4 linked regions of the Homo sapiens genome follow. The protein of the gene in region 4 interacts with the protein of the main gene of each other region in a pairwise test. Each region holds a gene or a part of one and is shown on either strand. Other genes may lie near its edges.

Region 1 (5,282 bases), on a different chromosome or scaffold from region 4:
GGGCCAAGGATTGGAAACAGGCAACTTACCTCTGAATTACACTATTCCAGGGTCTCATTATTCCAGGGTTTTATTACATTCATTGAGCACTGTTCTGGGCTCTGGATTATACCAGAGAACGATGGTAGACAAAAACATCTGTCCTCAGGGATCTTTCGTGTTAGTGGAGTGAGGATGTGAGGAGCACTAAGAGCCATGGAGAAAAATAAAGCAAGAGAAGTGGATCGGGACCTGGGAGCACGGAGGCAAGGGAGGAGGTGACAGTTGTCCATAGAGTGATCTGGGAAAGCCTCTTGAGAGGTGACATTCAAAGAGGCCCCTGAGAGGGGTACGGGAGTGAATCATGGGGCTATTTGGAGAAAGACCATTCCAGAAAGGAGGACAGCAATTACACAGGCCTTGAGGTAGGAGAGTACCAGGGACTAATAGCCAGGAACCAGTGGTGCCTCTGAGAGTGAGGGAGGGGGAGAGTCATACACGAGGCTGGAGGAGGCAGGCGTCAAGGGCTACTGGGTGATAGAGGGTCTAGCAGGGCCATGGTGAGGACTTTGGCTCTGGGTGAACAAGAATGGCATGATCTGACCTCTGTTTTTTTGTTTCATTTTGTTTTAACTTTTTTTGAGTCAGAGTCTCGCTCTGCCGCCCAGGCTAGAGTGCAGTGGCATGATCTCGGCTTACTGCAACCTCCGCCTCCCAGGTTCAAGTGATTCCCCTGCCTCAGCCTCCCGAGTAGCTGGAACTACGGGCATGCGCCACCACACCCAGCTAATTTTTGTATTTTTAGTAGAGATGGGGTTTCACCATGTTGCCCAGGCTAGTCTCTAATTCCTGGGCTCAAAGCGATTTGCCTGCCTCTGCCTCCCAAAGTGCCGGGATTACAGGCATGAGCCACCATGCCCAGCCCTGACCTCTGTTTTAATAAGGCCACTCTGGCTGCTGTGCTGCAAATAGACTTCAGGGAGCAAGGACAGAAGCTGGGAGGCCAGAGAGCAGGCTCTTGCCATAATCCAGATCCAAGCTTTTGGCCACTAGGACGGGGAGGTAGCAATGGAGGTGAGGCGCGGTCAGGTCCTGGAAGGTGAAGCCAGTGGGATTTCCCTATGGATTGGAAGTGGGGCGTGAAATAGAGGAGTCAGGGGTCACTCTGGGGATTTGGCCTGGAGCAGCTGGAAGATGGAGTGGCTGTTAACTTATGTAGGGAAGGCTGTGGGAAGAAGAGGTTTAGGAGACAAGGATAGCAGTTCATTTATTTATTTATTTATTTATTTATTTATTTATTTATTTATTTATTTAGAGATGTAGTCTCATTCTTTCGCCAGGCTGGAGTGCAGTGGCGCGATCTTGGCTCACTGCAACCTCCACCTCCCAGGCTCAAGCGATTCTCTTGCCTCAGCCTCCCGAGTAGCCAAGTAGCTGGGACTACAGGCATGTGCCACCATGCCTGGCTAATTTTTGTATTTGCTTTTTCAGTAGAGATGGGGTTTCACCACGTTAGCCAGGCTGGTCTCGAACTGACCTCAGGCAATCCACCCGCCTCGACCTCCCAGTGTTGGTATTATAGGCGTGAGCCACTGTGCCTGGCCCACTGGATCCTTATTACAACTGCCAGTGTCCCTCTTATATATATCAGGAAATAGAAGATTAGGGAGAGGTTAAATAATTTGCCTAGAGTGGCATGGCTAGCTCGAAGTGAGGCAGGGGTCAACCCCAGCCCTGACTCCAAACCCAGGGTCCTAGGCCTGAACTGCCCAGCCTTGCCCAGCCTGAGGCTCCCCTGACTGGGGATCCCGTCTCGGGGGCAGGAAGGAGATCCTGCAGGAATACCTGGAGATTAGCAGCCTGGTGCAGGATGAGGTGGTGGCCATTCACCGGGAGATGGCTGCAGCTGCTGCCCGCATCCAGCCTGAGGCTGAGTACCAAGGCTTCCTGCGACAGTATGGGTAAGCCCCGTCCTTGCTCCTGCTGGGCCCAGGGCTGCTGGCCTGTCCACTGACGGGGCGCTGTCCCCCACAGGTCCGCACCTGACGTCCCACCCTGTGTCACGTTCGATGAGTCACTGCTTGAGGAGGGTGAACCGCTGGAGCCTGGGGAGCTCCAGCTGAACGAGCTGACTGTGGAGAGCGTGCAGCACACGTGGGTGGTGGCTTTGCACCTGGGCTGCGGCGGGGCTCCCAGCAGACCACGAGTGTTTATGTAGGCAGGGCTAGGTCGTGGAGACTGTCCACACAGAGCTGTCACCAGGTGGCCGGGCTTGCTTGGCTCTACAGGGATGCACTGGACCTGGGTTGAGGGGGCAGGAGGGCTCGGTTCTAATGCTGCCCTTCTCTTGGGTGCAGGCTGACCTCAGTGACAGATGAGCTGGCTGTGGCCACCGAGATGGTGTTCAGGCGGCAGGAGATGGTTACGCAGCTGCAACAGGAGCTCCGGAATGAAGAGGAGAACACCCACCCCCGGGAGCGGTGAGTGGGCCCCTGCCTGCAGCAGCCTCCTGGGCCTCCCTCCCTCCTACCTACCCTAACTGCTGCTGGCTACCCGCCGCAGACCGAGCCCTTATTCTCATCCACCCTCCCACCCGCCCCTGCCTGCAGGGTGCAGCTGCTGGGCAAGAGGCAAGTGCTGCAAGAAGCACTGCAGGGGCTGCAGGTAGCGCTGTGCAGCCAGGCCAAGCTGCAGGCCCAGCAGGAGTTGCTGCAGACCAAGCTGGAGCACCTGGGCCCCGGCGAGCCCCCGCCTGTGCTGCTCCTGCAGGATGACCGCCACTCCACGTCGTCCTCGGTGAGCTGCCCCATCCGCGGCCGCTGCCCGCCACCGGCCTGCCCACCTGGGGCTGCGCTCCTCATTTTCGCCCTCCCCCTCCCTAAGCCTGGCCACCCGCTGACGTCTGTCCCTGGCCTCAGGAGCAGGAGCGAGAGGGGGGAAGGACACCCACGCTGGAGATCCTTAAGAGCCACATCTCAGGAATCTTCCGCCCCAAGTTCTCGGTGAGTGGCGCCCAGCCTGGGCCCCCCTACTGTTGTGTTTCGAGTTTAATCACTGGGATGTCCTAGAGAGGAGGCTCTGCCCAGGCTGCTTGTATTGGGAAGTTCCTCTCTTCCCTGGGATTCCAGGCTGCAGATGTCCCCAGACCCTGCCCCTGTGACCCCTCCCTTTCCATCGCCCCAGTGTGCTAAAGGGACCAGCAACCTCGACTATTCCATGGCTCTCCCTGCTTCAGGAGCGGGTTGGGGGCCTGTGGCCTGGAGGAGGAGGCACCAGCTTGGTTTGGGGTCTTCCTGCCTGGGCTTCCCTTCCCAGCTCTGCCCAGCGTGAGCCTGGGCCAGTCCAGTGCCCACTCCAGGGGCCTGTGGATGGCTCTGCATGCCACTCCATGGTTGTAAGGGCTGAGGGCATATAGGGGGGAGAGAGAGACCCCCGGCTGCCCCCACGGCCTCTTCAACAAGGTGGTTAAGTGACTCCTCCTCGATCCTCCCTTGCCCAGCTCCCTCCACCGCTGCAGCTCATTCCGGAGGTGCAGAAGCCCCTGCATGAGCAGCTGTGGTACCACGGGGCCATCCCGAGGGCAGAGGTGGCTGAGCTGCTGGTGCACTCTGGGGACTTCCTGGTGCGGGAGAGCCAGGGCAAGCAGGAGTACGTGCTGTCGGTGCTGTGGGATGGTCTGCCCCGGCACTTCATCATCCAGTCCTTGGATGTGAGTGGGGCTGGGACCCGAGCCTTCCAGGCCTCACTCTTCCCCTCCCTTCCCTTCCCCAAGGGAAATGGCCTTTCAGGGTAGGGGGTAGCTGCCAGGTCTTGGATGCCTCCCTAGCAGGGCTGGCTGGAAGGGGCCACAGAGACCACCCTGTCCCTGCAACAAAATAGAGGCTTAAGTGTGAGTCCTCCCCTGGTGGGGCAGCAGGATGTCATGTGCCATCAGATGGCATCTTTTCTGGAGGTCTCTCTGCCCCTGGTCCTGGGCAGGCCCTTTCTCCCCTGCTGCTCTCCCTTTCCCCCTCCCAGGGCTCACGCCCCCTCAGAATGGAGGCTGCTGACCCCGGGTCCCCTGCCCTGCAGAACCTGTACCGACTGGAAGGGGAAGGCTTTCCTAGCATTCCTTTGCTCATCGACCACCTACTGAGCACCCAGCAGCCCCTCACCAAGAAGAGTGGTGTTGTCCTGCACAGGGCTGTGCCCAAGGTGAGCCTGCACCCAGCCTGGCCCATGCCACCTGTGGCAGGGCTTGGGGAGTGTGGGTCAGGCCCACCCAGCGTCTGAGCAGAAAGGGCTTTCCAGGCCCTCCGTCTACATACAAGATGCAGAGTGAGTGACCCTCAGGGCCAGCCTTGCTCTAGGTTTGGAATGTCAGGGCCACTCCTATGCCATGGGCTGTACACACCAGGTTGGTGCTTACCTGGTCAGGGCACCTGCCTGGACCCCGTAGTCATCTCAGTGTGCTCCCCACGTGGTCCCACCCCTGGTCACATATGGAGGCGCCAAAAAATGGAGGACACAGCCCTTCTAAGGGCCCAGCACCCCTTTTCTTCAGACTTCTGATCCCCTGTCTCCTCTCTTCCCCAGGACAAGTGGGTGCTGAACCATGAGGACCTGGTGTTGGGTGAGCAGATTGGACGGGTGAGTGCGCCTCTGCTGGCCTCCTTGTCGCTGGCGACTTCTCCTGAGTCGCGCCTGGGCCCCCTGCCCTACCACCCAGAGACCTCCCTGCCCCATCTGATTCCCCACTTGTACCCCGACTCCCTGCCCAGCCCCCACCACACACCATCCTCCAGGAAACGGGACAGTACCTACCCTGAAAACTCCCAGCAGACAGCTCTGCCAGCACCCTGACCTCATCACCCCCACCCAGGCCGCCCCCATCGAGCTCTTGTGTGCACGCAGGGAGACACCCTGTTACTGTAAGCCATAAGATACCTGTTTAGGGAAGAAGTCACTGTCCTAAAAATCAGAATGCTTTTCAAACCCAAGGGAGAGTGATTTTTGGATTTCCATGTCACTTCTCTCAGGAAGGGTGGCACATCGGAGGCAACTTTCCCTGCCTGCCCCATGTGCTCTCTAGGTTCCCCAGCGAGGGTCAAACTCCCAGAGAGCCTGGGTGAGGGGTCCGAACACGGGGGCCCCTCACCCAGGGGTAGGAAGCAGAATGGGTAGGAAGCGGAGAAGAGAACTGCGGGACTGGGAAGGCCGTGGTAGGAGCCCAAGACCGTTTCAGGGGAACTTTGGCGAAGTGTTCAGCGGACGCCTGCGAGCCGACAACACCCTGGTGGCGGTGAAGTCTTGTCGAGAGACGC
Region 2 (5,282 bases), on a different chromosome or scaffold from region 4:
TGTTTTTCTAAGGAAAAAAAGTCATTACAATCTAATCTGTGTTAAACTGGAAAACTGCAAGTTGTTTTTCTTTATCTTTCTTTGTCTTGTTTTTAGGGCTATTCCTTTGTTGCTCCTTCCATCCTATTCAAGCGTAATGCAGCTGTCATAGACCCTCTTCAGTTTCACATGGGAGTTGAACGTCCTGGAGTGACAAATGTTGCCAGGAGTGCAATGATGAAGGTATATAGATGTGGTAACTTATATGACATATTTGTAGGTTTTGTGAGTGTTTAAATACCAACTCTAATTAATGTTCTTAAGTCTAGTAATTCAACTAAAGTGCAATTTTAAAAGTGGGATATAGCAATATTTTCCCTAGAGAATTAACGTCAAGTTGAATGAACTTCTTTTTACAATTATAGAGAATTATGTATCTTAAATAATTATTTAGATGAAAATAGAAGTTACCTATAAAGATGAATTTTAGATTATAAATGTATTCTATTCCTGTTTATTAATATTAATAATTTTATTTTACTCTACAATTTTATTGATCCTTTGTGTATTACTGACATTTTCTGAAGTTAAATGATGTTGATTTCTTGACAGGACTCTCCATTCTATCAACACTATGACCTAGATTTGAAGGACAAACCCCTGGGAGAAGGTAGTTTTTCAATTTGTCGAAAGTGTGTGCATAAAAAAAGTAACCAAGCTTTTGCAGTCAAAATAATCAGCAAAAGGTATGACCATTTTTAATATAATATTCTTTCTTAGGTATTCATGAATTCTGTAAATTAAAAGATATTTATTTTAATTGAAACCAGTATTATATTGTAAGACTTTCTTACCCAAAGGTTTAACCACTTGGCTCATCAGTTGGTCCATTATACTTTTAGCTCTAATTGATATTTTCTGATAAAGTAATCCATTTTAGACATAAATCATAGTCTTATTTGCTTTTGAGTTTATCTAGAGAAAACGTCTTTGTGACAGTGACATATTTAATCAGGCTCACATAGTGATTTTGGCAGCCATTGCCATTTCTACTAGTTGTGTATTTGAAATATTTTTCTCTAAAATTATTTAGCAAGCTACTGATAGCTTTGAGAGCCATCTAGTTGTTTTGGTAACTGATGATTATTATTAAGATTGCATATTCTTATTACTCTAAATTGTCAGGAAAGTAGAGCATTCATTTCCTCATATGATTTGTACTTTTCTGACTCAGAAATAATAATTTTCTCCAGAATATTACTTTTTCTAGTGTGTGGTATAATTCATTACTTTCATGGAAACCTCATTACAGTATACTGTAACATGTATATTCTGAATGCACTGTAAATAAGACAAAATTAGTCTTGGGGCAGTACTGATATAAAAACTTTCTTGAAGAGACATGTGGATGCTAAGTGTCTCATCTTGCAGGATGGAAGCCAATACTCAAAAGGAAATAACAGCTCTGAAACTCTGTGAAGGACACCCCAATATTGTGAAGTTGCATGAAGTTTTTCATGATCAGGTATCCTACTTTTTTTTTTTTTTTTTCCCATGTGTACTAATTCACTTACAGGGTTGTACTTTTCACGCGTTTTGTTGGTGCTGCTGGGTCAGAGTCAGGGATATAGAACATCACCCAGCCACCAGAAAGGGCAGTGAAACCACCCTCTCAAACCCCTCCCCAACCACACACTGTTTCCCAACCCCAAATCAGGTTATCCCTTCACCTCTCATGCTTTTCTCACTCAGCAGTTAACCACCTATGACAGGAAGACGGAGGGCCAGGAGCTCAGTGGTGCAGTCACTGGCTACAATGTGCTTGTTGCCAGTGCCGCTTCTACCCACCATCACTTAATCCTGGAGTACCTCTCAGGACTCAGGAATTTTGAGCCTCCAACTTCCCTTTCACTTCTAGAGTAAAACTGAGAGAGCCTGGAGCCTAATTAATGCAAGCTAAAGGACAAATAGGAAGCAGAAAGCAAAGATACTCCTTTTATCTTCTAGCTCCAGGTGGTAAATTCTGCTCAGAACCCTGGCCAGATCATGCTGCCCCCTCTTCTGCTCTCAGTCCTGCTTTGCAGCAGGAACTATGGGAGGATGCCAGTGTGTCCAGTTCGTGTCTGTTCACCTCACACATGACAGAAATTGCTCCATTACACTTCTCTGCCCCTGAGACCAGGTGGGGTGATGCAGTCCTACTTAAGACAACTTGGAGGCACAAGAGCACAAACCAATCCTGAATGTGCTTTGCCCTAATTTTACCAATAAAGAAACTGAGATTTTGAATGTTCATAAAACTTGTCTAAGGTCACATAGCATGTCAATGCGAATCTAATAAGGAGAACCTGTACTCCAGTTCTGGGCTCTCTTTGTTGTGCTGTTGTAATATCTGTGACCTAGGATCGATGGGGCCCAGTTCTCTACCACATTGAAATATCCTCGAGTGCTATTGCCAGGAATGATACATCATGGTGAGACCAGGCAGCAGCAGCAGTAGCACCATAACCATAATAGCTGCTGCCATTTATTATCACATATCTTGTGTGGTCTAGGTTCTGTACCAGGCACTCTGCATGTATTGTCTTATTCAGTCCTTACCATAGGTCCATGAGGTGAGAAAATGGACACTCATAGAAGTTAAGTAACAGGTCTTACAGTTGGTAAGTGTGGTAAGGCTGGGATCTGAATCCACACAGTCCAACTTCAGAGCCCAACAAGCTTTTATTTACTTTAAACTACTGCCTTAGGGAAGGCAGAATCACATCTGGCAGTAAGCATCCCAAAATGGCATCATCCTCTACTCACTCTTTGGTTCTTGTAGTCAGAAAAGAAATGCCACTGAAGCAAGGACTCAGGGGGAACCGCTCTCCCTGATCCTCTACCTCCTCTTGCCTCATCAAGCCACTCGACACAAGAGGAGGTAATGAGTCCCCTGGCCACGAAGGTGCTTAAGAAGAGGCTCACTAGACAGTCTCCTGTTGAAGATGATATAGAGGAAATTCACATCATTCAAGGAATCAACGGGTGATCTTAGATGCTCTCCTCTGGGTTTGCAGCTGTGCCCATAACTACATCCCAGACAAGATACTTGATCTCTGACCTTCAGACTAATGTCAGGTCCCATGAACAACATTTCTAATTTTTTATTTGTGTCACAAATTAAGTAGATGTTTTGCTATTTATATATTCAGGAGTTACTAAAATATAAATTGTCACATGATATAATCCTATACAAACTAGTATAAATACATTATCAATCTAATATGCAGTTGTAATGTATCTTGGGTTTTCTCATAATGGTGGCACAGTTGCCTAGATCATCCCTGTATCCAGTCTTTTCTTCAACTAATGGGTGAAATTGGTTATGGTGGGTCTTCAGCCTTTGTGCAATAGCATAGTTCATTTTGTGTGCCATGATATGCGTTTCACGTACTCCATGAGTTTGCTATTGCTGCTGCAACAAATCACCACAAACTTAAAACAATACAAATTTATTATCCTGCAGTCTGGAGGTCAGAAGTCCAAAATCAGGCCCATTGGCTTAAAGTCAAGCTGTCACCAGAGCTGGTTCCCTCTTGAGCAGAACCAGGTGCACAGCGGGAGGTGAGTGGCAGGTGAGCCAGCATTACTGCCTGAACTCCACCTCTTGGCAGATCAGCGACAGCCTTAGATTCTCACTGGAGTACAAACTCTATTGTGAACTGCGCATGGCGAGGGATCAAAGTTGCAGCACTCCTTATAAGAATCTAATGCCTGTCCCACCCCACTACTGCCTCCCCTCGTCCATGGAAAAATTGCCTTCCGTGAAACCATTTCCTGGTGCCAAAAAAGTTGCGGACCTGGCTCATGCCTGTAATTCCAGCACTTTGGGAAGGTGAGGCAGGTGGATCACTTGAGGTCAGGAGTTTGAGACCAGTCTGGCCAACATGGTGAGACCCTATCTCTACCAAAAAATACAAAAAATTAGTCAGGCGTGGTGTTGTGCGCCTGTAGTCCTAGCTACTCTGGAGGCTGAGGTGGGATAATCCGTTGAACTTGGGAGGCGGAGGTTGCAGTGAGCCAAGACTGCACCACTGCACTCCAGCCTGGGTGATAGAGTGAGACCCTGTCTCAAAAAAATAAGAAAACAAAAAAGAAAAAAAATGTTGAGGATCACTGCTCTGGAGGCTCTAAGGGACAACCCATTTACTTTCCTTTTGTAGCTTCTAGACACCCCCCAACATTTCCTTGGCTGTGAGCCTTCCATGCATCACTCTAAGATCTTGCCTCCAGGGTCTCATCTCATACTGCTAACTCTGATGAATAATTCAGGATAATCTCACATCTCAAGCTCCTTAATTTACTAATCACATCTCAAAAGGCCCTTTTGCCATCCTTCTAAGGTAACAACCACAGGTTCTGGGCATTAGGACATGAACAACTTTGGAGGGCCATCATTCAAGCTCTACCACGCATACATTTTCTCATTGCTATCTGCATTTTATTGATAAGGATCCTAGAATTAATAAGATAAAGTAGCATCCCAAGATCATGAATAAATAACAGAACTGACCTTCAAATCCAGGTTGAACTCTAAATCTGTTCGTACACCACTGCAAGTATTGCCTTACATCTTTTTTAAAGCTCACCAGCCTACAGTTGTAGCAGACCTGCAAGCTCAACTTTATCTGATGTAGAAACTCAAGTTAGCTTGATGTCTAGTAGGCTGGGAGCAATTTTCTTGTTAGAAGGGTTGTTCACTCTGCAATTTGTCTAATGCTTTCAGGATAATGTACTTATAATTGTCTTTTTTATGAAGCAGTTTATTCTGAGTTTTGCTAATACAGAAAGAAACATTTTGTTTGTGAAGTGATGTTGGCCTTATAATGCATAGCACCTGAATTCAGTATATTGCCATGATATCTTTTTCTAAACCATTTGTGTTCATTTGAGAGCTGATTAAGTCCTTTGCTTTTTTTCTTTTTTGAGACAGGGTCTCTGTCACCCAGGCTGGAGTGCAGTGGCACAGTGACGGCTCCCTGCAGCCTTGACCTCCCGAGCTCAAGTGATTCTCCCACCTCAGCCTCCTGAGTAGCTGGGACTGTAGGCGTGCGCCACCATGTCTGGCTAATTTTTGTTATTATTTTTTGTAGAGATGAGGTCTCACTATGTTGCCTAGGCTGGTCTTGAGCTTCTGGGCTCAAGCAGTCCTCTCACCCTGGCCTCTAAATGTGCTGGGATCTATAGCCCTTTGCTTTTTGATAATTCCTGTATTATTTTTTGGAAATTATCCATTCTGACAGAAAAGAGCCTGGGTGGAG
Region 3 (5,439 bases), on a different chromosome or scaffold from region 4:
AGCAAAGGTGATGTTTGCTTGGATTTTATTTGAAAACCCGATTTGATTCATGATCTACTTCTCCTTAGGTATGGACCCCAGTGTAATGACATAATTGGCTCAGCCTTTAAGATTTAAAGCCTCTGTTCCCAAGCTGCAGTGGCTGGAGCAATAGGAAATGAGAAACAAGGCAATCTCACATTGAAGTGGCTACTTAAGGATCCCTAAGGTGTAGTCATGATTTCCAGCCATGCAGTTGTTTGGAATTAGAAATCCTGATTCCTACTGTAAACTGAACATTGCAAAGCTGGTAGGATTAATTCAATGGAAGAAACTTGGTTTCTTGCTTGGAGGCATGTGGATGAATAAGAACTCTTGTGCATTGCTGGCAGGAATGTGAGTCAGTACAATCACTTTTGGACAGGGACATGGCATCTTCATAGACTTGAAGATATGTAGCAACTCTACTCCTATGTATCTGCCCTAAAGACACTCTTACACATGTTCACAAGAATTCTCACTGCAAAGATGTTGGTAGAAGCAAAATTTTGGAAGATGTCATTTAAGAAATACGTTGTGGTGTAGCAATTAAAACTAAAGCTATCAGGCAAATGATAAAATAGAGCAGGGGTGGCCATACTCATGTCAGAAAAAAATGCTTTACCGCCAGGCACAATGGCTCACACCTGTAATTCCAGCACATTGGGAGGCTGAGGAAGATTGCTTGAGCCCAGGGGTTCAAGACCAGCCTGGGTGACATGGGGGAGACCCTGTCTCTATAAACAAATTTTAAAAGTACTATAAAAAATGTAAAAACTAGCTGGGCATGTTGATTCATGCCTGTGGCTCCAGCTACTCAGGAGGCTGAGGCAGGATTGCCTGAGCCTGGGAAGTCAAGGTTGCAGTGAGCTATGATCATGTCACTGTACTGCAGCCTGGGCCAGAGAGTAAGACCCTGTCTCAAAGGAAAAAAACAGTCAAAAACTGTGACAAGAGACAGAGTAGAGAACCCAGAAATAAATTCTCATCTATATGGTCAAATGATCTTTAACAAAGGTGCCAGCTACTCCTAGGTACTCAAGAGGTTGAGGTGGGAGGATCACTTGAGCCTAGGTTCAAGGTTGCAGTGAGCTGTGATCACACCACTGCACTTCAGCCTGGGTGGCAGAGAAAGAAAGACTTTGCCTCTTGGAGTATTTCATCTTCATTACCCTATAAAGATACTTTGATTGCAAGTGGAGACAAAGTAATTGGCACATAAAATTTTTATTGGAAATTGACTTTACAACTTAGTACTCAGCCTGGGTCACCCTAAAGCAAGCATATTTTATATAAGGGGTTTCAGTTTTACTTTCTTCTTCCTTTGATGACTATGTTTGGACTTTTTAATGCCAACAAGTCAGATCATTGTGTAGATGGCCACTAAACTGCCAAGGTGACAGTTTAACGAATGTGGATTAAGTCCAGGAGCCAAGTTTCCCAGTAAGAAAAATCCTAGGTCTCCTTCAGGGAAGACAGCATTTTAGAGTCAAAGCTAATTATTCTCAAAATCAACATACGTTTGCAAAAAATTGGTTATAATGGAGGATCAGGGACCAATGTCTGCTGCCCGTTGCTTCCTTTACATCCTGTCTGATGCTCTCATGACACTCAAAGCCTCTGCACTTGTCACCCCACCCAGCTCCAACTAAAAGTGTCCCATTTTTTTTTTCCCCACAAATCAATTCTCATGACTGCACTTCAGAGCTTGTCCTCTTAAGGTAATTTGAGTATGTTTAAATTAATAACGTGACAGTATTCAACCAGAAAATAAATAAATGAATATATATACACACACACACACACACACACACACACACGTGTATATATATGGCTTTGTGAATCCAGATGAAGTCAGTTGTTGAGAAGGTAGGTGGGCAGATATTAATAGAATTGGTGTTGTACAAAACAAGGATGAAAGAAAAGTGAGGTGAAGAGGATGGAGTTGTTGAGAAGGTAGGTGGGCAGATATTAATAGAATTGGTGTTGTACAAAACAAGGATGAAAGAAAAGTGAGGTGAAGAGGATGGTTTTGTAGCTGGATAGGTAAAAGGGTAAGTTCTTACGCAAAGATGTATTACAGAGCAAATCTCAAGTTTTCTGACTGCACAGTTCAAAGTTTCAACTACACATTTTACCTAACAGTTTTGAAATATTATAAAGCTTTATTCCATTCTAATATGTGATGGTTTAAGTCAAAAGACTTGAACCTTCTCAGCCTTTCAGACTAGCAATTTATGGCCATAATTCAAAGTGATTCTGGTAGTAATTTTCATTCTAGCAGAAAATTTTCATTAACCCAAGAGTGAAACAGGAGCTGTATTTGCTGGCCATGTTTTATTTGTCCTTTTTCTTCAAACAGGATAACCAAAGATACAGACAGTATTCAATAAAATAAAATAGATGAAACAAATTCTAAGAGACTGCGATGCCACATGCTACGTTTAACCTAATTTTATTCATGCTTGCCTTGGGATGGGGAATAGATCATTCAGTAAAAACATACAGTAAAAACAAAATGTCTTATCATGTACAACTTTCAAACTACAATAATGATGTACCTTAATTACTTCCATGCACACAAGTCTAACATTTGTTTTTTTAAAAAATAAACACAATTAAGACTTCTAGGAGCATTTTATAATAAAGTAATTCCTAATTAATTTTTCTTTGTAGATAGATCAAGCACCTCCAAAATACAAATTCCTATACACAGTGAGCACGTTACTTAAAATGAACACTTAAGTAAATTAAGTACGTGGACAGCCTTAGGATAAGCTGACATTATAGATGCAGCTAGGTAGGCAACAAACCATAGTGCCAAATGGAAAAAGTAAAGTATATTTGCAAATAAATTTTAAAAACTAAGTTAATTTTTTATAATTAAATACAGAAAATATACTGATTTGCTAAAATAAATAAGATGTGATGTATTAACACTTCACTATAAAGAATGCATACCAGAACATTTATAAACAGTGAGTGAGTTTTATTAAGAATAGTTTACTACAATAAACGCTGGCTAAATAGAAGTGCATTTTGTGAAGCACTATGGGTGGTATATGTTTTGCCACATACTCTTGTTACCTTGAGGTAGATAACACATGTGTACCAAATTCGGCATTCATTTTCAGTTGCTGCTGGTATCATGTGTTTTAAGAAATGTGTACAGTATGAAAAACTTGAAAATATTCATGAATGAAAAATGTCTTAGGAAAAAAATAGCTATTTTCATGCAATTATGTACAGTCTCACTGTGTAAATTTCAAGGCAAGGTTTGTTTCCTGTAAAACAGATCAATGTTCTATGAGAGAATGTTCTTGTCTTAGTGCATTTCTTTTCTCCTCCTGCGTTGCATTATTTTGCTCTAGTCTTTATTTTTGTGTGCAAATGACATGCCAGTTAAAATGAAAACTATCTCACATGTAGAAAAAGAAAGTCTGGATTTTAAAAAACAAGAACTCATAAAATCCTTACTAAATGACACCATCTGATTCAAGTAAAAAATGACTTAAACACTAGTAATAAAAAAAGACAAAACACATTTCATGAAGAATACAAAGATAAATGTCTGCTGAGTGTTTTAGTTCAGATGTTTCAGAATGCTGCTGTATGTTTGATGAGGAATTTGAGGGGAAGATTTCATAGCAGAAGGTGTTAATGTGGCCTGTATTGACTTAAGTGGTGACCCAACTGGACTGTGAAACTGTGGGATGCCTATGGACTCGAGCTGCTTGTTAAAGAGGAACTCCCCACTGTTGTTCAGAAATCCTTCCTCATGTCCTCTCTCCCCAAGCTTCCCATCCTCTACTGGCTCAGTTTCTAGCATTTCAGTATCTTCTTTCCTGCTAAAGAACTTGTCCAAGTAACTAGTGTAAGTGTTTTCCTTCTCAACTTGTTCATCCTTCCTTACCTCACAAAACTGATTTATGAAAAAACAGTCCTCCCCACCACTCACAAACTGGCTGTCCCAAGAAGACTGGTACAAGGCTTCTAATTGAGCCAGATTTGCCATTCCTTTTTCCTGTTTTTCTTGGCTTACTGACTTTGATATCAAACTTTTCAATTCTAGTTGGGACACTGAGCTATTCAAGTCATTTAATTTATCAACAACATCAGTAGGCTCATGCTGGGAACTAAGCTGAATAGTTCCTGCAATAAAGGAATCAAAATCAAATCCCTGATTCTTTTCCCTTTCTTTTCCAGCCAGTTGCTGTGATGCTTCCTCTAGCGCTATCTGGGCTTTAACCAATCCATTCCTTTCACATTTTGATTTGCCTTTCTTATCAGATTTTTCTTTGCTTTGTTCTTTCCAATTGGAAAGATCTATAATAAGCTTGGGTTCATAGTAATGGTTAACTTCACTCTCTCTCCAAACTAAGTTATCTAAATATGATGATGACCTCGTTTTGTAGTTACAAGTATGGCTACACTCCAGATCACAATATTTGTTTTCATGATGATCTGAGTATTGCCAACAAGGCTCAGTAGAGTAATTGGTATCAAAAGCAGGATCCTCCAGATACTTTTCCCGATCTCCATCCAAATATTTTCGGGGATCAACTTGTACTTCTTCTTCATCAGTGACATCGGACAGAGCTCTTGGATCAAGCTGAACTTCATCAATATCAAAGTTGTTATGTACAGGCCAATCATGCTCTGAAAACTGACAATCATGATACCTGAAAAAAATCAATACACTAGCGTTATTCTACGTATATGATTTCATTTTCAAATTCACCGAGTACCTTCTATGTGACAGCACTGTGCTAGGTCTATGAGGGGATAATTATAGGAGAGTAAATATGCCTGCCTTGCCCTACCAGAACTTAGTCTTGATAGGAAAGCTCTGTTAATATATTTGGTAATTGCCAATGCAGTATGTAACTTCATTTCCAATTTGTTTTTTGTCCACCAGTTCCATGCAAACAAAAGACTTCATAGCCACAAAATGCAGATCTCAAATCTCAATCAGGTACCTTACAAATGTTTACTCTACAGTAAGGGCAACTAGAAGAGGAGGAGGTTTGCTAAATGTTTACTCTACAGTAAGGGCAACTAGAAGAGGAGGAGGTTTGCTGGAAAACTCATCACCATGAATAGCAAAAATCTCCCTGTGTATACGTGCTGCTGAATGCGCTATCCTATTACTGACATGTATAATCATTGAGGGAAAAGAAAAGAGATTAGATAACTTAGCTAGGTAAAATAGAAAATGCAGGTCAGGTGCAGTGGCTCAGGCCTGCAATGCTAGCACTTCAAGAAGGCCAAGGTGGATGGATCACTTGAGGTCAGGAGTTTGAAACCAGCCTGGCCAACATGGTGAAACCCCCACTACTAAAAATACAAAAATTAGCTGAACATGGTGGCGGGTGCCTATAGTCCCAGCTAGTAGGGAGGCTGAGGCAGGAGAACTGCTTG
Region 4 (5,737 bases):
ATGTTTTTAATTTAAATATATGATCATAGGGACATAAGAAACTGATGTAAATGCTAAACCACACACAAACACACCCAGATACAATCATATCTAAATACAGCTAAGTAAACAAAAGTTCAAAGACACAAAACTACGTGAGAACACCTGCAAAACTGTCTATGCAAATACAGAGAATGTGAGATATTTTTTAAAACTCACAGACACACCTACAGATCCACAGACACACAAACGTGCCACTGTGAACCAGGGCAGCACGAATCACTGCACAGCACACTTAGGAACACAGAACTGCAAAGCCACCCATGACACAAGTATCCTTGTACACCCATGGCCATCCCATCAGGGTCACTTGCTCCGAGGAAAAGAACTCAGAGAGGTAGAAACAGAAGCAACATACCCTCATCGAGCCAGGAGGCCGGGGCCATAAGTCACCGTTGGATGACCTGCGCTGGGGTGGGATAAGTCAGCAGGAGCTGCAGCTGGCTGGAGAGACGTTACAGCAAGACAGAAAGCCCTAGAGACAATGAGCCTGTGTCCGGCAAGCCTGGTGCAGCCTAAGATCCTCAGGGCCTGGCCTGTGGGCTCTGGCCCAAGGGGATGCAGCGGGCCCTCTCCCCTTCAGCCATCTTTGGGTGACCCTCAGCCGCCACCTGGCTGGCTCCTCAGCCCTAGTCTCCCCCTAGAAGCCCACTGCCTGAGGCTGGCAGGGATGTCCTTCTCAAGGCCACCCTTCCTGGTCCCTCCCCTCAGGACCCCATGTCTTAATCAAGAACCCCAAGTCCCAGCCCACCCACCACTGAGCCGCTGCTAGTCCCTGGCCAGTCATTGCAGCGCTTTGAGCTCAGGTTCTTGAAGGCGCAGGTGAACGGAAATACCTGCTCCCTGAGTTTGGGAGGAGCACCACAGGGCGGCAAGCCTGAGCCGGATGCATCGGGCAGTATCTGTACAAGCCTCTCTGCCAGCGTCCCCGCTGCCACTCACTCCTCCTAAGCCATCACTCCTTCCAGCCAGTTGGGAATCTCAGAGGCCCCCAGCGCCACACAGGAGCCTCCACGCTCCACCATGCAGGAGGAAGAGGGTTTGCCACGGCTCTGGTTGTGGCACTGTCTGCAGAGCCCTCCACTTACCAGGGTGGTTCTGCATGCCCCTCCCAGAGGTCCCAGCCCAAACCAGGTGGGCATCCCCTCCCCCACCTGGAGGCCTCCATCCCCACACCCAGCATCAGGCACCCTGAAGCCTCCCACAACTCCCCTGTCCCACCCCCCATGACCCACCCTGCTCCTCTCCAACTTCCCGGATCCCACTCAGCACAAGGCCACCCCCACTGTGACCACTCTCCCAGCCCTGACCCTTCCCCTCTTCCTACTCCACCATCTTCAGACCTCAGTCTCCCAAACACCCCAGTCCTCAATCTGGGGAGGGAACAGAGGAGGGGAGCCAAGGGAAAGGGCGGGCCACTGTCCAACCCAAAGAACAGGCCATAGTGGAAAAAGCCGCTGAGAGGCCCCAGACAGGGACTGAGATTGGGTTTGCTTCTGGTTAGCCACATGATCCCAGGCAAACCACTTTCCTTCTCTGGGCCTCAGTTTCCCCACCTGAAAATGGAAATAACGCTTGCTCGTGGTACAGAATTGTTATATCAAGTGGGGCGGGGGCGGTGGGGGGTGGGGATGGCGGGACGCAAACAGTGTGAGAGGACTCTGAGAGACATTCCCAAGGTGCAAGACAAATTCGATTTAGGTCGTTGCTGTTGCCATCACCCGCTCCCCACTCAGGGTTATAAGAACTGTACCTCAGGGTATGAACAGCCAGCCTGGTTTCATGGCTTCAGTTTGCTCCCCTCGACATTCCCAGGAGACCTGATCTGCATGCAAGCAGGTCACTTGCCTTATCCACTATGCCTGCCCACCTCCCAGAGGTCCCCAATTCAACCCCAGCCATGATCCTGAGGTACCTCCTTCCAAGACTTCCTTCACCGGCCAGAGGTAAACACGCTTGCTGGAACTGTCCCACCCACACCTCCCCTGCGCCACACCCCTGGCCCCCTCCTCCTCACCCACCTCCCTTCAGAGGCGAGAGCTGCACTTACATTCCTCGGCCCCAATTCTAATATTCAGGAACCTGTCAGGGCCTGCATCTGAGCTGAAGGCCGAGGATAAACCCAGCTGCTAACAATCTCTGAAGAGGTGTCACATTTTAATTAATAAACACGTTTGCATCCCTTGCTGCATTCAAAGGACCTTGGGAAAGCAAAGTGAGATGGAGCAGGGACCCCTTCAGGCACCTGCTGTGCCCTCCAATCATGAAAATAAAGGAAAATCTTGAGTTCTTTCCAGGGAAATTCCAGGCACCTAGCTGGTCCTGAGAAGTAAATGTGCAACCTGATAAGAAGGTAATCGTAGCTAAAATAATAGCAAGGAAGTCAGACCACACGAAACGTGTGGTTGCCTAAAGAAACTAAAGGTAACATCTTAGCATATGTCCTTGAGTTGTTTTTCAGAAACCCAGACCCCCACCAAATGGACTTGCTGGCACGCACACCTCGGATAAGAGGGAACTGAGAACTCAACTCTGCTCATCTTTCCCCATTGCACCCCGACACGCCCCATCCTCTCGTGGCTCTTGAACTCACCGTGTCCTCGCACCCTGTGACCAACCTTGGAAGGCCCTTGCTCAGTTCTCCCCTTCCCAGCCCAGATTAGGGATCGCTTTGACCAGGAAGCCTTTTTGGACACACCAGGCACAGCCAGGAATCCCTTCTCTGTTTAACCTGTGCACCTAGGACCATCTACATGGAATCATCATTGTCATCAATTTGTTAGTCTGCACAAGACTACATGCATCTTAACACAGGGTCCTTCTCTCTCCCCTGCACCCAGTACAGGCTCCACACACAGTAATCCATTAATAAAAACTGTCATAAGGGAACACTTAAATAAAAGAAATTTCAGTACAAAACAGATTTGAAGCACGGAAGCATGAACCTTCAAGCTGAAAGGAGACAACTGCCATCTAATCTCTTCATTTTACAGATGAACATGGGAACAGTTAGCTGTGAAGCCTTGGGCTGTCGTCCGCCTCCAACCCCTGGGGCTCTGACCACACCCAGCCCCAGCTCAGATCATCTTGCTCAAAGGGCCGAAGGAGGACCCATCTCCACACCTTCCACATGTAGATATCCTCAACGTTCTTCACAGAGGGGATGCCCGCACCCCGCCCCACCGAGTTCGCGGCTGCTGTGCCCATCTTCCTAGAGAGGAGTTCTCCGCCACACCCGACACCACACACTTCCAACTTCTGCGGTGCTTCCCTCTCACTTATCTCCACCCCCAATCCTTATCCCCGCTCGTTTAATCACACATTTATTGGTCACCTACTATGTGTCTGTCACTCTGCAGCGAGCATTGGGGTTCCTGCCCCCAGAAACTGATCTATCAGGGAGGCGAACAGGGACGGGGAACTCGGAACAACGGGACAGCCCAGGAGAGACCGCCCGCGGGCGACCCCTCTACTCGCCACCGCGTCCTCCCTCCATTCTCACTAGCCTCCCTCCTAACCTCGCTGCCCTGGCCTGGCGCCCTCCCCACCCTCGGCCGCGCCCCTTTCCCCTCGGCTGTGTCGGGGCAGAGGGAACGCTTGAGACCCGGGGCTCGGGGGGCGCGCGGGGCTCGGGGCACCCCAGGCCCCCGCCCCATCCCTCCGCCCCAGCCCGGGCCGGGCGGAGGCAGCACGGGAGGAGCGGGGCCGGGCGCTGGTCCATCCCTCGCACCGCCCCTCCCCGCCCAAAATGCAGAGGGACTCGGAGGGAGGCGACGGGGAAATAAATACCTTTGACTTTGTGGCTAAGGTTAACGGGAACTGCCACCCCGAGGGCGACTTGGGCACCGGGCTCCCGGCCCTGGCCATTCCCGGGGCAGGCGGGGCGGGCACGGGTGCCTGATTGGCTGGCGGGCCTGGCCATCCCCGGGGCCGCCCAGCCACTCCATTGGCTGCGCCGCTCAGATGACCCGCCCGGCCCTATCGGAGCAGCCCGCGGGGCGGCTCCTTTGTTCTCTGGAGCCAATAGCCGAGGGGGGAGGGCTGACCTCGCCCCCGGCGGGCGCGCAAGGCCCGGGCGCCGTGAGCGCGCTAGCCGCCGGCCGCGGGGAGGAGACCTTGGGAGGTCGGGCCCCAGATGGCCGGCGGCGTCCTGGCACCCCTGCCAGGCCTGGACTCCGCGTGCGACCCCGTTGTAACGCCTGAACTCAGCGCACGTTCGCCGAGCGCCACAGCGCGCCGGACGCTGTTTCTCCCTGCTGGGGACCCATCAGGGCCCGGACAGAAACCCCGGCTGAGGCTGTGGCTGCCCTCAAGCCGCGATAGCCCCACCGTGGGGTGTGATAACTTTTAGGGTTCACTACGAGGGACCTTAGAAATCATTATACCCGACCCCTTCGTTTTCTGTTTCAGGGAGGTGGTCTCGCTCAGACCCCAGTGGCGCGATCATGGCTCAGTGCAACCTCGAACCCGTGGCTCAACCGAACCTCCCAACCTGCTAACTTTTTAAATATTTTGTAGAGATGGGGGTCTCGCCATGTTGCCCAGGCTGGTCTCGAACTCTTGAGCTTAAGTGACCCTGCGGCCTCGGCCTCCCAAAGTGCTGGGATTACAAACCCGCGCCCGGCCTAATCCCTTTGTTTTCTAGCTGAGGAACGGCTCTGAGGTTACGTTACTAGGTCGGGTTACTAGGTAGGGTTCCCGTGAGCGGAATCATCTCCGCCCAGTTGCCACCCCGGTCCAGACTGCCAGACCTTCAGGAAGGAGTATCTTCGCAACTCCCCACCCCATTGTAAGGAAATTCCTCACACTTCTCCCTCAAAGGGGGCGCAGCTGGGTCAACTCCCACTGGCAGGATGCTCTCCGGAGCTGCTAGAAGCTGCCTCTGGGGCATGAGGTAGATACAGACAGAAGCTGGGCCTCTGAGACTCTACAAACGGTTGCTGTTGGGCAGGCGGACCTTATTTTCTTCAGTCAACAGCTGATTAAACATTTGCCACAGGCCCGGCTGCGGTTTAGCCTCAGTAGCACAGCAGGAACTGGGGACTGAGATTCGATTTTGTCACTAACTTCATGTGTACTTTTTATAAAAGATACTTTTCTGTTTCTGGACTTTGACTTATTCGTCTATAAAATAGGGTTAATAATTTTCTAGTTGCCTGCATACCTTACTGAGTTTTTACCGTTAATTTGGTTATATTATCTATAGAAGGATTTGTAAAATACAAAATCATACACACCCTATAAAGAGGCCACACATCACTAGCTATCAACACTTTGGAGTCTCATTCTCCTGTTTATTTTTTTAAAGACGGGGTCTTGCTATGTTTCCCAGGTTAAAGTACAGTGGCTATTCACAGGCACAATCATAACGCACTTCAGCCTCAAACTCCTGGCCTCAAGGGATCCTCCCACCTGAACTACACCTGAGACTACTGGCATGCACCACCACACCTAGCTTATTTTCTAGAAGAGTACCTAGAAGAGGTTCTACGAAGGCTTGTGGAATACATTCCTGTTGCTGAGACCAGTATTCTAGTTCCAGATTTGCCACTGGCTACAAGTGTTGAGACAGAGCAGGAACCTCTCTTAGGGGTCTGCCACCAGCCCCCCATTCAATGCACGAAAATAAAGAAACATTTGAGTCCCTTCAAGGGAAATTCCAGGCACCTAGCTAGCCCTGCAACCAGCAATTAGGGAA

The links.
Region 1: the proteins of ZNF775 (region 4) and FES interact in a two-hybrid assay, tested with the Homo sapiens proteins (one large-scale study listed by BioGRID and IntAct).
Region 2: the proteins of ZNF775 (region 4) and RPS6KA5 interact in a two-hybrid assay, tested with the Homo sapiens proteins (one large-scale study listed by BioGRID and IntAct).
Region 3: the proteins of ZNF775 (region 4) and MAPK6 interact in a two-hybrid assay, tested with the Homo sapiens proteins (one large-scale study listed by BioGRID and IntAct).

The regions. Positions count from the first base shown.
Region 1 is NC_000015.10:90,887,504-90,892,785, forward strand, and holds part of FES (tyrosine-protein kinase Fes/Fps), read left to right. Parts: intron 1-1,802; coding exon 1,803-1,940; intron 1,941-2,013; coding exon 2,014-2,133; intron 2,134-2,336; coding exon 2,337-2,459; intron 2,460-2,588; coding exon 2,589-2,775; intron 2,776-2,862; coding exon of another isoform or gene 2,863-2,897; coding exon 2,898-2,981; intron 2,982-3,478; coding exon 3,479-3,688; intron 3,689-4,050; coding exon 4,051-4,173; intron 4,174-4,554; coding exon 4,555-4,608; intron 4,609-5,203; coding exon 5,204-5,282. UniProt on the Homo sapiens protein: Tyrosine-protein kinase that acts downstream of cell surface receptors and plays a role in the regulation of the actin cytoskeleton, microtubule assembly, cell attachment and cell spreading.
Region 2 is NC_000014.9:90,895,551-90,900,832, reverse strand, and holds part of RPS6KA5 (ribosomal protein S6 kinase alpha-5), read left to right. Parts: intron 1-96; coding exon 97-222; intron 223-591; coding exon 592-725; intron 726-1,410; coding exon 1,411-1,504; intron 1,505-5,282. UniProt on the Homo sapiens protein: Serine/threonine-protein kinase that is required for the mitogen or stress-induced phosphorylation of the transcription factors CREB1 and ATF1 and for the regulation of the transcription factors RELA, STAT3 and ETV1/ER81, and that contributes to gene activation by histone phosphorylation and functions in the regulation of inflammatory genes.
Region 3 is NC_000015.10:52,063,163-52,068,601, reverse strand, and holds the end of MAPK6 (mitogen-activated protein kinase 6), read right to left. Parts: intron 4,701-5,439; coding exon 3,602-4,700; 3' UTR 1,227-3,601; downstream 1-1,226. UniProt on the Homo sapiens protein: Atypical MAPK protein. Phosphorylates microtubule-associated protein 2 (MAP2) and MAPKAPK5.
Region 4 is NC_000007.14:150,377,484-150,383,220, reverse strand, and holds the start of ZNF775 (zinc finger protein 775), read right to left. Parts: upstream 3,892-5,737; 5' UTR 3,829-3,891; exon of another isoform or gene 398-3,828; intron 1-397. UniProt on the Homo sapiens protein: May be involved in transcriptional regulation.